Linked DNA regions of Homo sapiens: region 2 is linked to region 1. The links come from fine-mapping of genetic effects on gene expression. Tissue or cell type: whole blood. Region 1 holds a variant in brackets; the other region holds the start of a gene. All regions are shown on one strand. Distances are from middle to middle.

What was found. PIP is the estimated chance that this variant, and not a neighbour inherited with it, causes the effect.
Region 2: TAS2R20 starts here. The variant in region 1 is fine-mapped to the expression of TAS2R20 in whole blood (INTERVAL, PIP above 0.99).

Annotation. Positions count from the first base shown.
Region 1 is chr12:11,154,440-11,162,550 of GRCh38, forward strand. The region is part of intron 1 of PRH1-TAS2R14 (PRH1-TAS2R14 readthrough); the gene reads right to left. The region is part of intron 1 of PRH1-PRR4 (PRH1-PRR4 readthrough); the gene reads right to left. It also overlaps a transcript of PRH1 not described here and the pseudogene TAS2R18P. Among named protein-coding and RNA genes, the nearest start is that of SMIM10L1, 13 kb to the right of the region's middle. The variant C/T (reference allele first, on the strand shown) is at 4,749.
Region 2 is chr12:10,993,445-11,001,555 of GRCh38, forward strand. It overlaps TAS2R20 (taste 2 receptor member 20), which reads right to left and starts at 4,860. Exons shown (of 1, transcript NM_176889.4): 1 at 2,517-4,860. The coding sequence starts at 4,431. The coding sequence ends at 3,502. All of the region lies in intron 3 of PRH1-TAS2R14 (PRH1-TAS2R14 readthrough), which reads right to left. All of the region lies in intron 3 of PRH1-PRR4 (PRH1-PRR4 readthrough), which reads right to left. It also overlaps a transcript of PRH1 not described here.

The DNA of each region.
Region 1 (8,111 bases):
TACTCTTAATTGGGGAGAGGAAAGCAAGGGATGTAAGAATAAATGATTTCCAGAGGAAATGCATAATCTAAAGAGCAATGGCCTAGGACAAATTTCCTCTGAGCTCTAGGGGAGGTGGAGGGAAGGTTAGGGCCAGAACTTCACTGTGAACAAAGGTTGTCTTATTATGCAGATGAAGTCACCCAGGGAATCTCTTGGAGCTGCCTTCAAAAGAACAACTGAAAAGTCTGTCTAGGCATATTGACAACTCCAAGTATCTTATCCAGTGGTTATTTGATCCAGTATCTTATCCTGGTCATTTGATGAGATTCCTAGACAAGGAGTCTTTTAAAAATTGCATTTCTTCTGGAAAGAAATTTTCTTAATCAGATAAGGAAATTCCAGAGAGAATTCCCTCTGGTGCTTCAGGAAAGAGGATCAGAGACACAGACAGAAGGGAAAACTTCAGACAGAGAATTTGAGGCTTCCTGTTTAGTCAAAGAGCGATATATTTTCAGTATCATTTTCTGAGCCCCAATAGTATACAGTTGTAGTTAGTTTCATGGTGCCATATTTCTTGCAGTGTGTCACATCTTCTGCTTAATTGTAGAGTTTTAATAGAAAAATCCTTCATACATGTGGGCACAAATTTTATATTAACATAAAAACATTTTCATTCCTATCAAACAGTTCTGCCAATCCCAGGCAGTAACACTCGATCTGTAATTTTGATTGAAGGGCTGGATTCAACTTTGATTACATGCAAATAGGAGAAAAAGTAACTTGCACTGATTTGCAATTTTCATTCTGCCCTAAAGCTTGGGTCACTTGGATCCAAATGCCAACTTTCCTAAATCTCTGCTCAAAAAAGAGAGGTGGAAAACTTTCCAGTATAATTCATGGGGGTGCTTAGGTGTAGCTTTTCTCACTTGAAAACCAGAGAACCAGAGAAGGTACAGAAACCTGGAAAAATGATTATAAGTCTTTTCTAGAACATTAGAAACCAATTAGGTCAGTTGTTAAAAATCAAAACTAGAATTTTATGTGACATATAGAAAGAAAATTTCCTGACTTTAACACAGGAAGTTGTGAAGTTGTAAATACAATTTTCAAGATGATTCGTTTATTGCAGAAATTGATTTGAGTTTGCCTCATTTTTGAACTCTTTATAAATACAACCTTAATATATTTTCTTCTTGTTTATGACTTCTTTTTTTAAGCATTATGTTGATAAAATGTATCCACTTTGTTGCATGTACATGTGGTTCATTGCTTTCAATTTCTCTATATTGTTCCATTATATGAATTTGCTATAATTATTAATCCTTCCTTAATTTATAGGTATTTGAGCTGTTTCTTTTTAGAACAATTACAAATAATACTACCATGGGCATTATTTTACATGTCATTCAATGCACTTCTCTTGGATATATAGCTAGAGTATATGCATTGAATTTGATACTCAGACTCTCTTCACAGACAATGAAAAGGTTAAATAATAATTAAACTAAATTTAATCTTTTCACCTTCACCCCAGTCTATATGTTATTGGCATACATTTTATTCATTACCTCTTTTAACACAAGATATTATTGTTCTATACAGTCAATAGTCCTTTTAGTTACGCACATTTGCCATTGCCTTTATTTTCATTCCTTCTTGCATCTTCAACTTTGTATTTTCAGTAACTTTTTTCTATCTGAAAATGTATCCTTTTGAATTTCTGTTTATGAAATGTCTGCTACTCCTTTGAAACGCACTGAAAATATATTACATTGAATTCTAGCTTCCATGCTTTCTGCTGAAAATCAGTTGTCATTCAAACAGTTGATCCTTTCAACATAATCTATCTTTTTTCTCAGGCTACTTTTCAAATTTTCTATTGGTCTTTGGTTTCCTGTAGCATTTATATGTTAATTTGTTTTCAGTTATCTTGTCTGAGGTTTGTTGGTTTCTCGAATGTATGGATTGATACATTTTATTATTTTTGGAAAGGTCTCAGCAACATTACTTCTTCCCTACATTCTCTCTTCTAATCTTCCAGAACTCCAAAAGTATGTTAAGCCTTTCTGACTGTAGCCTCAATGCTCTTCCCCTTTAGCCTGTATTTTTCCATCTCTTTGTCTAATTATGCTTCACTCTGTGTAGTTATCTTCCAATTCACTAATTCTTTATTCTACCATTTCTAACTGATTGTTAAATCTAATTGATTGTTAAATATTGAATTCTTAATATTAATTTTTTCAGTCATTATTTTGGTGGTAGAAAGAAACTTTCACTCTATTTCTGTAAGTTATTTCTATGGATAAATAAAATACTCATAATACCAAATTCTTAAAGATTTTTTAAAAACTTTTAGTAAACTTGACAAGAAAATACCAATAATTCTCTTCTTTTACCCACACTTTGGTCAAAGAAAACACCAATTTTTTTTTTTTTTTTTTTTAGACGCAGGCTTGCTCTGTCACCCAGGCTGGAGTGCAGTGGCGCGATCTTGGCTCACTGCAAGCTCTGCCTCCTGGGTTCACACCAGTCTCCTGCCTCAGCCTCCCGAGTAGCTGGGTCTATAGGCACCCGCCACCATGCCCGGCTAATTTTTTTGTATTTTTAGTAGAGATGGGGTTTCACCATGTTAGCCAGGATGGTCTCGATCTCCTGACCTCGTGATCTGCCTGCCGCAGCCTCCCAAAGTGCTGGGATTACCCACACTTTGGTCAAGAATAGAATAAAAGTGTGAGTCTAATCATTCTTAACCAAGTTGAAAAGAACTAAAAATAAATTTGATGCAAGTAGCAGCTTCTCTGTTGCTGCATCTTCACCACAGACTCTTATTACATGAAAATTCAAGGAGCAGAACTTGATCTCAAAATGCCATTACCATAAATAAAAGATAATACATCAATCACAGCAACACCATCTTATAACATGGCTTAATATTTAAGTAGTCCTTTTACTCTCCTTACACTGTTAGACATGGGGCTTTGTGCCTTACAAGTCCATCATCAAGAGAGTATGATATTGAAGATGTGAGGGCTTATTTCTGTTTGGTTCATTGACTTTTAAAGCCTCTCTTTTGAAATAAGAGTTTAATTATAAAATGGTTTATTGACTTTATCTCTCTTATTATACAAATGCTATTTACACTAAAAACTAAATATTTCTGGTAGTTAGCCTCTGATGAGTTTAAGATTATTTATAAATCATTTGTTCAAGCAATGCATTTTAAGTAAAAATACACTCAACTTCTAACTCTAAATGTATTAAGTTTCACATAAGCCTTGCTCTTTAATAATGCAACTTACCCACAATAATAATCTTTAGGAAATTACCTAGACATTCTCCAAATCGTGCATGTAAACATTTAAAAAACAAATAGTTAAATGAAATATATGATGATGATAGTGGTGGTGGTGGTGATGATGATATTAATAGCTAAATGAGAGAACCCTACCTGATAAATGTGATAGATGTGACCTCACTCTAATTTCCTGAATGGAAGAGTTCATTTTGTCTGGAGAAAACAACAATTCTTCCCTATGGCCTTATCATTCTTACACCATTCTCTGCATCAGGGCTTAACCTGGAAGAATATTTTCACCTACTACTTCATGAAGACTAATATAAAACCAACATACTTCCCATGATTTACCAGCTATTTTTTCCCTTTATTCCATTTTTAAAATTATGGTAAAAGTTACCTCAAACAACAGTGCTGGGTTTTTTTTCTTTCATATGGACATATCCATTTCCTCTATTAAAATAATACATGATCTTCATTTCATATTTTAGTAACATCATTTGCAAGCAAAATTCTCTTAACTGCTTCATTACATTCCCAGCTACTGTGATTACATCTGGGTTATTTTATTACAGTAGTCAAAGTAGCACTACACATCCACAAACATATCCAAGCATTACACTGATATATATTATGCTTTAACAAACTTACTTAATTATACTTAACATTTTATAATTTTTTCCCTACTGTATTTATAATTTTTTGTTCAAAAAATTACATTACACTTTTTTCTGTGATTTTATATATATTTATTCATATTGCCTTGTATATCATATGTGCATTTATTTATATTCCATTATAAATGTTTATCTTTTTCTCCAAGTCTCACATACTCTATTGTTATTAGCAGGCATTATTATAGTAGAGACATTTCCTTGAATCAGACATTATGTCCGGCAACTTTGAGAAAATATGGTTAGTGAATATTTTAAGGAAAATTTCAGAATTATTTAACAACACTTAAAAGGACTCCAAAAAAGAAATTGTTAAATATAAAATTAACTTATGAGGTCTTCTATTAAGTTATTTCTTTCATAGATGCAGAAAGTTAAATTTTGTCTATGAAGTTAAAGGTTTTGCTTTTTTCAGAGAGAATTTAAGATGCCACAGTAGTCTCAAGGAGCTCTGTCTTAGCTTGTTGTTTCCCAAAATTATAATAAATGAGTGGCCTGAGGGAAAGGCAAGTAAAATCATCATAATAAACGTCATGACCTGATAATTCTCTACCTCAAGGAAGATCCAATCTCCTATTAAAGTGGAAATAAAGTTAATAAAAAAAAGGAGGAGGAAGGCTATCACCATTTTCATGGCCCTTTTATGGGCCTCTGTGCTGGAGTCCCTTGAGCCCAGAGAGTTGAGCTGCAAATTCTTGGTGTGTCTCACTAAGGATATAAATAAAAGGAGCAAAGAGGTCAGAGTCAGAAGAAAGGGAATAACGTATGTCAAGCTGAGAAGCCTAAGGCCTTGAAGA[C/T]AGACTATTTTACTTGTATCTGAGTGCAAAGTCATGTTTTTTTCACAACTCACTAATGGCATTGGACATAAAAAGGTAAACAAACGATAAGAACAAAGACCGCAGGAAAAGCACAAGAACCACTCTGTTCATTCTCCACTTCAGCCAGGCAAAAAATAAGCGGGAGAAATTGGCTATCTTAAGCAAGTAGAAAATGCTTAGGCAGGTGGCAAACTAGATACTTAACTGATTAATTAATGCCCAAAGAATAGTAAACAGTTTTACTAGTTTACGGATGGTATATAGATGAGGGGACAATACCATTATAAATGAATCAAATAGTATTAAATACAGTCGAATGATTCTGACTATAGCCAAGCTGGTGAGGATGAAATCAGCTGATGAGACCTTCCAACTCTTGGCCCACTCAATGCAGTTTACCAGTCCAATGAGCCCGTTTCCCAGCATTCCTAAGACAAGTCCTCTTGTTGCCACCACCAGAAAGAAAATATTAATTCCAACGAACATTTCTATGAAAATATTTCCGATATTCTACTTCACTGACAGCTTTATAGTCAAACAGTTGCAGATGGGCATGCATTTATGATGCTTTCTATCTATGTTTTCATCACAATTTCAGAAGGCATAGCCAAATTCAGATATATGTTCAGAGATCTTCATGAAAAAAATAGTTTGTTCTATTTATATTGTAACTCCGGTACTAAACCAAATTGTTAAGAGATACAAAGCTTCATGAATACCTTTCTTACCACTTTCAGTCAGCTACTATATAATTTCTAGAACAAACACTAATGATGTCTATTTATCTTCAGCATCAGCCACAATTTTCCATTCATGGTAATGACTAAAGAAGCGAAGTCGAGTATGTAAACATGCAAAAATGAGAGATCATTTTTCACTAATTTGCATTTTCATCTCCCCTGAGCCATACCACTTGAATACAAATATCTTAAATTTTGAATAGAAATTGTTAGAAATAACATTTATTTCAGTAATTATTTGTCTCTCATTCAGTAACATCCTTCTACATACCAAGCATTTTTGTTGATGCAATATGATTTATAGAAATAAGTCCCTAAAATTATTCATAATTCAAGAATTTCACCCAAGTCCTAAAACTATTAATATAAATAATTTGTATGCAATGTTACAGGAGCTAAAAAGAATAAACAAAATATACCAGAATTAAAGACGAGGAAGATACAAATGCTTCAGTGAAGAATTGACTATAGTTCTCTGAGGTTAGGGACATTCAGTTTGAACTGGAATTTTTGTTTGTTTGTTTGTTTGTTTGTTTTTTTGAGACAGAGTGAGACTCCATCACACAGGCTGTACTGCAGTGGCACAATCTCAGCTCACTGCAACCTCCGCCTCCCAGGTTCAAGCGATCCTTCTGCCTCAGCCTCCCGAGTAGCTGGGACTATAGGCGAGCACCACCACGCCCAGCTGATTTTTGTATTTTCAGTAGAGACGGGGTTTCACCATATTGGCCAGGCAGGCTGGTCTCAAACTCCTGACCTCGTGATCCTCCTGCCTCAGCCTCCAAAAGTGCTGGGATTACAGGTGTGAGCCACCACGCCTGGCCCTGGAATTCTTTAGAATTTATGAAAAAGAAGAAAAGAACTAATATTCAAGACAGGTTTAAGGGCACTTTCAAACTACAAAAGTGACATAAACAAGCTATACCATGCATCTATAGGCAGGAACTTTTTTGTTTCACATTTGTATGGCTATTTTAAGCAAAATGCACTCTCCAACTTCCATGTCCTAAATTTCATGTTCTACTCTTTTTTCTAAGCATATAGACTATATTTCCAAGCCTCTCTTACAGATGCAATGTGACTAAAAGCTGAACAATGTAATGTGAGTGGAAATTATGTGCACTACTTCCAGGCCCGTCCCATAAAAATTTGCCATGCATCCTCCTCCATGCACCTTTTCTGCTCCTGGCTGCCTGGAATAAGGTGACCCCAAGGCAATCTTGGAAGCTATGTGTTAAAGGTCACCAAGTGATCAGCCTATTTTAGTGAATAACTACATAGGGAAGGTTACTCAGACATATCAGTACCATTAAAAGAACAAAATTAAATCATATTGTTTGAAACGTTTTACATTTTGGAGCTATTTGTGATGCAGTTTGTCTACCCAGTCTAACACAGAAATTGGAACTGAAAGTGGGAGAATTTGTTTAGAGGATTTGGATAGTGAAGGAACAGATCTTGGAGACTGGCAACACGATGGCACATGTGGTGTATAAGCAAACTTTTTAAAAACATTATATGCAATAACTTAGAAGAAGGCCATGTTTAATGAGTCTCTGGCCCTAGGGGAAGTGGTTGATGAAAGTCAAAACGGTGTGCCAGGGTTGTTCTCCAAAATATTTTAGCAAGATATTATGAGAAGATGAGAAAGGAAAAGAATTGACTGGTTTGCAAATAAGAATTAAGAGCAAGAGAGAGTTCAGAAATCTAAGGTTTCAGAGGGGTATAAAATCTCACCGGTTTGGGGTATCAAACAGCAATAAGTGAGACTGAAAAAAAAATTAAGAGGCCCATTAAGACTTTTCAATTAAACATAGAGACCATTGTTTCGAATGCCTTCAAGATAACTGCCACCAAAGTGAAAGAAAGAGGCCTGGGATAAGTAAGGGAAAAATGTTTATCTATTTTCTTATTTATACAGACATGAAACATTTGTGTAAGGACAACCATTTTGGAAATTTTTGTAGGGTAAGATGGAACTGACCAGAAGCAAGTAGATTAAAAACTTTATATGTTGCTGAGGATATTGCATTTGTCAAATAAATTATGAGTGATTTAATTAAATATGTGATATTAAAATGACTCTCTGGCTTCCAAACTTGCATTATTGAAAAGACTTGAAATACGTACCTTCTCCAGGAAGGTACCCTTCTCATCATCCTTTTCAGATGCAGCCAAGGAGGATAATAATGAAGAACATCCAGAGGGTAAAGCCAGGATCCTCAGAAAATGATGGATAAGGGAGTTTCTCCCAGAGTCCAGACACAGGGACTAATCAGGAACTTCCCTGTAAATCCAGGGCAGGCGACTCCACATAGCCTATCAAGGAAGGTTTGTCACTGCTATGGCCAATCTACCATTGTATTCCTCCTGTTTTCTTTCTAAATGGGAGGAGTTTATTGTTGCCAGTCAGCCTGCCCCTAATCATCCACTTTATACTTTGAAGTGAAGATATATATATCTTGTGTTTTTTGTTTTCATTTATTCCCAGACCATGAGGGACTACATTTGGAAGTGGTAAACAGAACTGTCTATCACTCAGAAGCCCTGAACTTTAAGCTGATGTAACATAAGACTTTAATGCATCCCCAGGAAAGGAGCA
Region 2 (8,111 bases), 160 kb before region 1:
ACAGAACTAAATACCAGAAGAAGAAAGATGAACAAGAAGATTCAGTGACCTATAACATAGATGATGATTTTAGGGGTCCAGTGCTCCTAGTCCACATGCTGAAACACCCTTTTAAAGTAAACAGCATGTTGCTCTCTATACATCTATTTCCTGTCACTAAAAATGAGACACAATATTTGTTGGGCCTACTGGGATTTGGGAGCCAACGTATTCCACATTTGAGGATACTGCTCTGATTCACTAATGAAGTTGCCAAAGGCTACTGGTCTCAAGTGGAACTAGAACAAAAAATGCCTCTAGCAAATGTAGGCTCTAGTCCAAGCTGCTGTGCTCATTGTGACAGATAATCCAGCAGAATTCAAACCCGCTAGAGGCATGCATGCATAGTGGGCATTATAAGACTCTGTGCATGCTTCTCACAAGCCCACAGGAGAGGGGAGAGCAAACCCCTAGCCAATTAGTGCAAGACCATTCCCTCTTTAGCAGAGGAGTGCCCTCTGTCTCAAAAACAAAACAGCAGGTGCAGAAAATTAACCCATGTATAAAGCCCTTCTAAGCGTGTGCGTCTCTAAGCACAAGACCCTGTGCAACAGTGGAAATTATATGCTCATAGTCAGCCATGATTGGAGGGCATGAGCACATCTGAATGGCACAAGGAGTGGACTGCATGGGACACAAACATGTGCTTCCTCAGATTTACTTGACTGTCTCCTATTCCCCTGGTCAGCACCTTGCCTGACCCACATCACCCTTCCATTTGGGACTTGAATGGATCACCACATTGTGGGCATGAGGTCTGACTTTCATAACCTCCATCAAGGGATTGGATGATGGAAAGCAGAACAGCAGAGATGGTAGTTCTGCCTCAGGGAAACCCTGGCCAGTGGGAAATAGAAGACAGAAGACAGCTGAGCAGATATATTCTCCGTCCTCTGTTGCTTCCATGGGCTAATGCTGGCTGTGTTGTCCTCTCGCAGCCCTTCTGAAAAAGTCCTGGGAGCCAAGTGCATGCATCTGATAACCACCATGCTGTCTCTCTCACATCATTGTGAAGTGGTCGTCAGCAGAGTCATATCACACATTACAGCACATAGTGTCACATCTTCTCTTGACTCAATTTCCACATGTCCCAGCCATTTCTGCAGTGGACCTCCTTCCAAATAAATGTCATCACTTTAATATCAGACATTTGCTCTACTTCTAGACCCCTGATAAGATATTCATTCAGTGTTATAATTATTATTCATTCATTTTTCCATCAGTTTATAATATGGTGATTAAAGTGGTCATTTAGAAAGGATATTAAAAATACTAAATAAAGATTATATTTTAGTAAGATAGTTGGTAACTAAATTTTTTAAATGAAATGTCATTTTTGTTTATATAATAACCAGCTAGAAATACCACAATATAAATATATCATTCGCAATAGAAAAGATATGTGCACTTATACAAAAATCTTTTATATGCTTAGTAAAAAGTATTGTAATAAATGCCATCTTTTTATTTTCCACTTTGTCTTTGTGTCACACATCTGATATAGCTGCATCACTGCTATATTATAGTGATATTTCCCCTAGAATTGTGGAATAGCCAAACTTTTGCTCTGAGAAATTCTTCTTCTTCTTGGATAATCCTGTAACTTCAATCTGAAACCAGAACAGAAATGTGCACCCAACTGTAGATTTTGTGATGTGTTACATTTTCATTGGTTCACCACCCCAATATAGTTCATATTCATTCATTCACCAATTAACTTGTTCATCAAAGTATCATTTTTCAATACCTATTCTATGTGCTATCTTTATGTCTTGGGAGTCTACAGTAAGCAAGATCTATATGATCTCTACTTTTATGGTATTTACATTGTACCAGGTAAGATATATGATAAACAAACAAATCAGATGTGGAGATGATTTATCTTAAGGTTTAGATAATATTGTTAAAATTGCATAACACCAGAAATTAATACAGTCACACAGAATTTAGCTGTTGAACTAGGTTATACATTTTCTTCTTGTAATAGAACTTGCTATTAGTGAATATGTCAACACACTTTCTCTCATTTCATTATTTACACCAAGATTATAATAAAACATATCTTTAAGACATTTCCTATCATTAATATATAGATTTCATAGATGCCATAGTTTCTATACCCTCTTTAGATTGAGCTTCTTTTTAAAGTAAGGAAAATTTGAGCTTTTTGAGGAATTTTAAGGATGGAAGATAAAGGAGGAAATTGACAATTCAGGAGCTCAGAGGTGGCTTAGACAAAAAACTGAAATATATAACATCAGATCTCAACTTCAAAAAGGTTTTTGTTTAATTCAAAAACTGGAAGAGATGACTTTTCTAATTGCGTATGGAAACTTATAACAGCACTGAAAAGAGCTCATGATCATGTTTCTTCATCCTTTTTATAGAAATGATTTTTTCTAAGCTATTAACATACTATATTAAATATAATATTCCTCAGTATTGCTTTTGATACACATAAAAATGTACACTAGATATATTTTTCACCCTTGAATTTTATTTTGTGCATTGTTATCTAACAATAATTGTATTTGCTTTATATTAAACATAAAATAAGAATTCATCATGAATGTCTATAATCCCAGCACTTTGGGAGGCTGAGGCAGTGGATCACTTGAGGTCAAGAGTTCGAGACCAGCCTGGCCAGCATGGTGAAACCCCATCTCTACTAAAAAAAAAAAGAAAAATACAAAAAATTAGCCACGTGTGGTAGCGCATGCCTGGAGTCCCAGCCACTCAGGAGGCTGACGCATGGAAATCACTTGAACCCCAGAGGTGAACGTTGTGGTGAGCCAAGATTGTGCTACTGCATTCCAGCCTGGACAACAGGGCAAGACTCCATCTCAAAAAAAAGAAAAAAAGAATTCATGATTAAAAAAAAAACAAAAAAACCTACCCCAAAGACACATTCTCATCGATTTAGAATTAAATGTCCTTACCATCCAAAAAATTAGAGGTTCAAACAATGATAGTTAAACAGTTAAACACACTATGGTACATATACGTGATACAAATTACAACGAAAAACAGCAATGATTTTACAACGAAAAACAGCAATGATTTTCTGATATAAGCTGTCAGTTCTTAATTATAAATAGAGATCATAAATTCCTCAAATGAAATATCATATAAAAAAATGTGTGAAATACACATGGGTTCATAATTCTGAGAAATTTCTTATCCTACTTTGGTATAACTGAACAGTTTATATGAAAAGTTGATTAAAGGTATGTTATGGTAAATATTAAATTTTCATATACATTCAGACATACACACACACGCAAATGTATATTATATATATATACTTTTATATAATAAACTTAGGTAAAAGACTTTTCTATGTCAACTTTTGGAAATTACTCAAATACATAGACTACGGAAAAACTTGTGGGAAATATAAAATGTTCCAGACACCATCAATTTGTTTTCTGCTAGAAAACACACAATGCACCTCTTGTGAATCTATGGAGTTGACTGGTTCTGTCCTTTTGCCCAGCAAGTCACCTGCCACAAAACTGAAAGAAAGGTCTGCTTTAGCGTCTTGTTCCCCCAAATCAGAATGAATGAGTGGAATGATGGATATATGATTCCAAAAGCTTGGCAAAGCATTAAGACAATTTCTTTTGGTCGCATCTTAAAATTCCAAAACGATATGATTAGACACAGAAAGTAAATGGCAAGTAATATGAGGAAGGAGGTCACAGTTTGCAGAGCTTTTATGTGGATCTTGGTGCTGGGATCTTGAGATCCTTTGCCATGGAGCTGCATCTTCTTCAGATGTTTACACAGAGAGTAGATTAACAGCAGAAAAGATATCAGGGTCAGAGTGAATGGTATCAAGTTTGCTAGCATGGCTACAGTCAAGTTGGAAAGGTGCATTGCATTCCTCAGTTTGATCTTCCAAGTTACGTTTCCTTCACATTCTTCTGTCCACACATTTATATACGTGTGTTTCATCACAAGGTGACAAACCAAAAAGAACAAAGACCCCAACACTATCACCAGAACTACACTCTTAGCCTTCCTTTTTAAGTGATGAAAAATAAGTCTGGAGAAATTGACGATCTTGAGCAAATAAAATATGCTGAGGCTAGTAGCAAGCCAGATGCTGAAATGATTGGTTACTGCCCAGGCATTAGAAATAAAAATTATTACTTTTAAATTAGATGAAGTTGGATTCAACACAGTTGAATACCAATGTAATAATATTACCCAGAGCAAACCAACTCTGGAGACTGCCAGAGCAGCAATAATTTGATCAGCTGAGGAGATCTTTTGTCTCTTGACCCAGGCAATGAAATTTATCAGTGCTATAAAGCCATTGGCAAAATTTCCAAGAATAAATGCAACCACTACTAGAATGGAAAAAACAATGTGTAGAAAACTCATCATGTCTAAACAAAAAAGCAAGTAAAAAATTCAGGCCTAATGTCACTGATGGTGACTCCTCTGATATTCAAGACTTTAAGTTAAATATGCACTTGATTCCTGAATGTCCAATAACATTCTTTATACTTTTAAATTCTGTGAACAATGTCAACAGAAAAGCACCAGCTTAAACTAATGAATGAGTTCAATGCTGCCTTTATGGGAAATACTGTTAGTCCCAAAACAACTCAAATTAATTCTTATTCATAAAGTCTCTATTCTTGCTATAGGCTGAAATTTTTCATACTGATGTTGAAGGGAAAGCTGAATTCTCATTTGCTAGCATTCAAATAAAGACATATCCTCTTTCATTGCTTTGCAATTTTTTCCTTGTTTCACCTTTCCATAATTTGTGTTCAGCCCTTCAGTTGTTGGGGAAATTTTAATACCCAGTACATAGATGACACAAAAAATATATTGTTAAAAGAGCCTGGTGAAATCTAGGATCAAAATCACTATGGATTTATTTTTAAAGCCAGATTTAAATACACAGAATCTAAACTTTTTATCAAAATCACCTAAGATTTTCTTGGAAACCACAGGAAAGCCAATACTCCTTATAATTTGGTTGCTGTTAACCAATACTTCTATATGGCATCACTATTAACAAGCTCATAAACACACACACAGACACACACACACTTTCACTCTTCAAGGATGGAAGGAATTGCTTTCTTGTAACTTATGACATGGAAAATGAGTTTCCAGGAGCTCGTCCTGGTGGAATTAGTCCTATTTTTCCCATGCCAGATTTTCAGCCAATGAATAATATTCATGAAACATATCTCTCATGCTTAGGCTTTTGGTAATGCTACCTGCAAGCTTGTAAACATTCCTGAGTACCAGACCTTTGTCACATAATTTTGCAGTGTCCTCCCACCACAGGCATAGTGACAACCTTGCACTAGGGCTCTGAGTTCGATCATGTAATTTGCTTTGATGAACAGAAAATTACTACACTTTACATCGAAATTTGAGATGACCTCCACATTAGGCTTTCTTGTTCCTTTCCGGTTTATAATGAGAACATGTCCACACTAACACACTGTTCCCAGAATAAGAATGAGTAACTCATGGAATCATATGGCTCCTGCCTGATCCAGCCTTAAATCGGCCAAACTCTAACTAGATCCAAGAGGCAAAACTTGGACCATCTCAAATCACCAGAGCCATCCACCAAACCCCAGCTTAAGAAAACAGAATCCAAAAACATGTGAGATATAAATATCTAATGTGGTTTTGGAGAAGTTTCTTTTGCAGAAAAAGCTAAGTGATATAGGTACTCTGCTAATCCAAGAGTTTGAGAAATATGTGCGCCCTTGTTGTGTCAGAAATTCAGGAGCCAAAGGAAAAATAGGTTGGAAATATCAAAGTTTTTGTAATATGAGGTGAATATCTAAAACTAGAAGAAAACTTTTGGAAAGATCTGGAGGCTGTAGGTAACAGCATCTCAAATTTCTCCATTTTGCAACTAAAATAAGAATTCACTTTAGCTCTCTTGAGTTGTATAAGAATGTACGTAAATGGTGGATTTTCCCCCTAGGTATATAATGAGCAGAGCAATTAATAATTTTTACGTGACATTTCTCCCAATTTGTAATTTTTTAAATAAAATTATAATGCACACTTAGAAATGGGCCAAAACAAAAATAGGTAAGAGCAATGTATCATAAACACTTATGTAACCATCATGCAGGATAAGACATGGAACACTGCAAACAGACTAGGTCCACTTCCAGGCCACTTTCCAAGCCCCTAAACCTTTATTCACATCTCCTGAGATAAGCAATATTCATAATCTATGATGATCATTTGCTTGAATTTCTTTATACTTTACCAGCTAGGTTCACAACCCTAAACTCCACAGCTTGGTCTGTCCTGCTTTGAACTGTGTATAGGTGCAGTCCTGTGTGTTCTTCTTGTTCATGGCTTCTTGCACTAGATATCATGTTTCTGAAATTTAGTTACATAGTTGCATGTACATGTGATTCATTTCTTTTCACCTCTATATACTGTTCCACTGTATGGATTTACTGTAATCTTTCATATCATTCAATCATCCTTAGTTAATATATATTTGGGCAGTCTATTTTTGAGCTATTATGAATAATACTACTATCAGCATTATTTCACATATCATTTGATGCAATTCCTATTATGGGGTCATTAAATGTGGTGTTCAAATTATCCTCACAGACATAGAAAAGTGCAAAAAATAATTTATCTAAATTTGTTCCTGTCACCTTTACCTCCAGTCTCTTTATCGCTATTTGCATATATCTTATCAATAATATATTTAACTCAGCAAGACGCTATTATTTTATTCAGTCAACATTCATTTAGAATTATGCACATATTTATCATTTCTGTTAATTTTTATTCCTTCTTGCATGCTTAACCTTGTATTTTCAATATTTTTTATCTGAAAAATATCATTTGGATTTCTGTTTATGAAGGTCCTCTATTCTTTTGAAACACACTAAAGACATGATTCCATTGAATTCTACTTTCCATTTTTCTGTTGAAAATCAGGTTGTCATTTAGAAAGTTGTTCCTTTTAAAATAATCTATCTTTTCCTCTGGCTACTTTTCAGATTTTCTACTGGTCTTTGATGTCTTGTGACATTTTATGTTAATTTGTTTTTAGTTATCTTGTCTGACCTTTGATGGTTACTAAAAATATATGGATTAATACATTTTATCACTTTTGGGAAAATCTCCACAACATTGATTCTGCCCTATTTTATCCCTTTTAATCTTCCAGAAATCCAGAAGTATGTTAGATGCTCTGATTGTAGCATCAATGCCTCTTATCCTCTTAGCTTGGCATTCTTTGTCTTGTGGTCTCTTTAGGCTTCTTTCTTTATAGTTGTCTTCCAATTCACTAATTCTCTCTTCTATGTCTAACTGGTTGTTAACTCTGTCTATTGGATTCTCAATATTGATTATTTATTTTTTGCTATTATTGTTTTAGTAGCAGAAATTATATTTTGTTCTCCTTCTATAAATCATTATCTATGGAGAAGCAGAACAAAGCACTCTTACCACCAAGTTTTTTAAAAAAAGTTGGGTTCTTTGTTCAGTTGGTTGGCTTTGTTTTTTTGTTTTTCGTATGCTTGACATGAAAATGCTAACAATTTTCTTCTTTTCCCAAGACTTTGGTCACAAAATAGAATAAAAGCTTGGTCTACACATCCTTCCGCAAGTTGGAAGAACCTGGAAATTGATGTGATGTTAGTAGCTTTTTTTTTTAGGGGGGGATAGCAGCTTGTCTGTTGATGAGTCTTCACCACAAACTCTCCCCACAGGGAAATTCAATGAGCTGTGCTGGATCTCAAGATGCCATTCCAATAAATAAATTATAGCACCTCAACCCTAGCTACACCATTCTATTTTACAAATTAAATTTTACTCTTTTTTTATTAGCAGAAGTGGAGCTCTGTACCTTCAAACTTCTTCACTATCAGGTGAGATATAGAAGATGTGAGGGCTTACTTCTATTTGATTTATTTAGTCCTAAAATTCTCACTTTAGATGTGCCAGCAACCTGTGTGGGCTGATGACTTGGGGCAGGATGGGAGAATGCCAGGGGATAGATGCACAAAGGACTGGACACCTCCTTGCCTCCTCCCATCCTCCTCAAA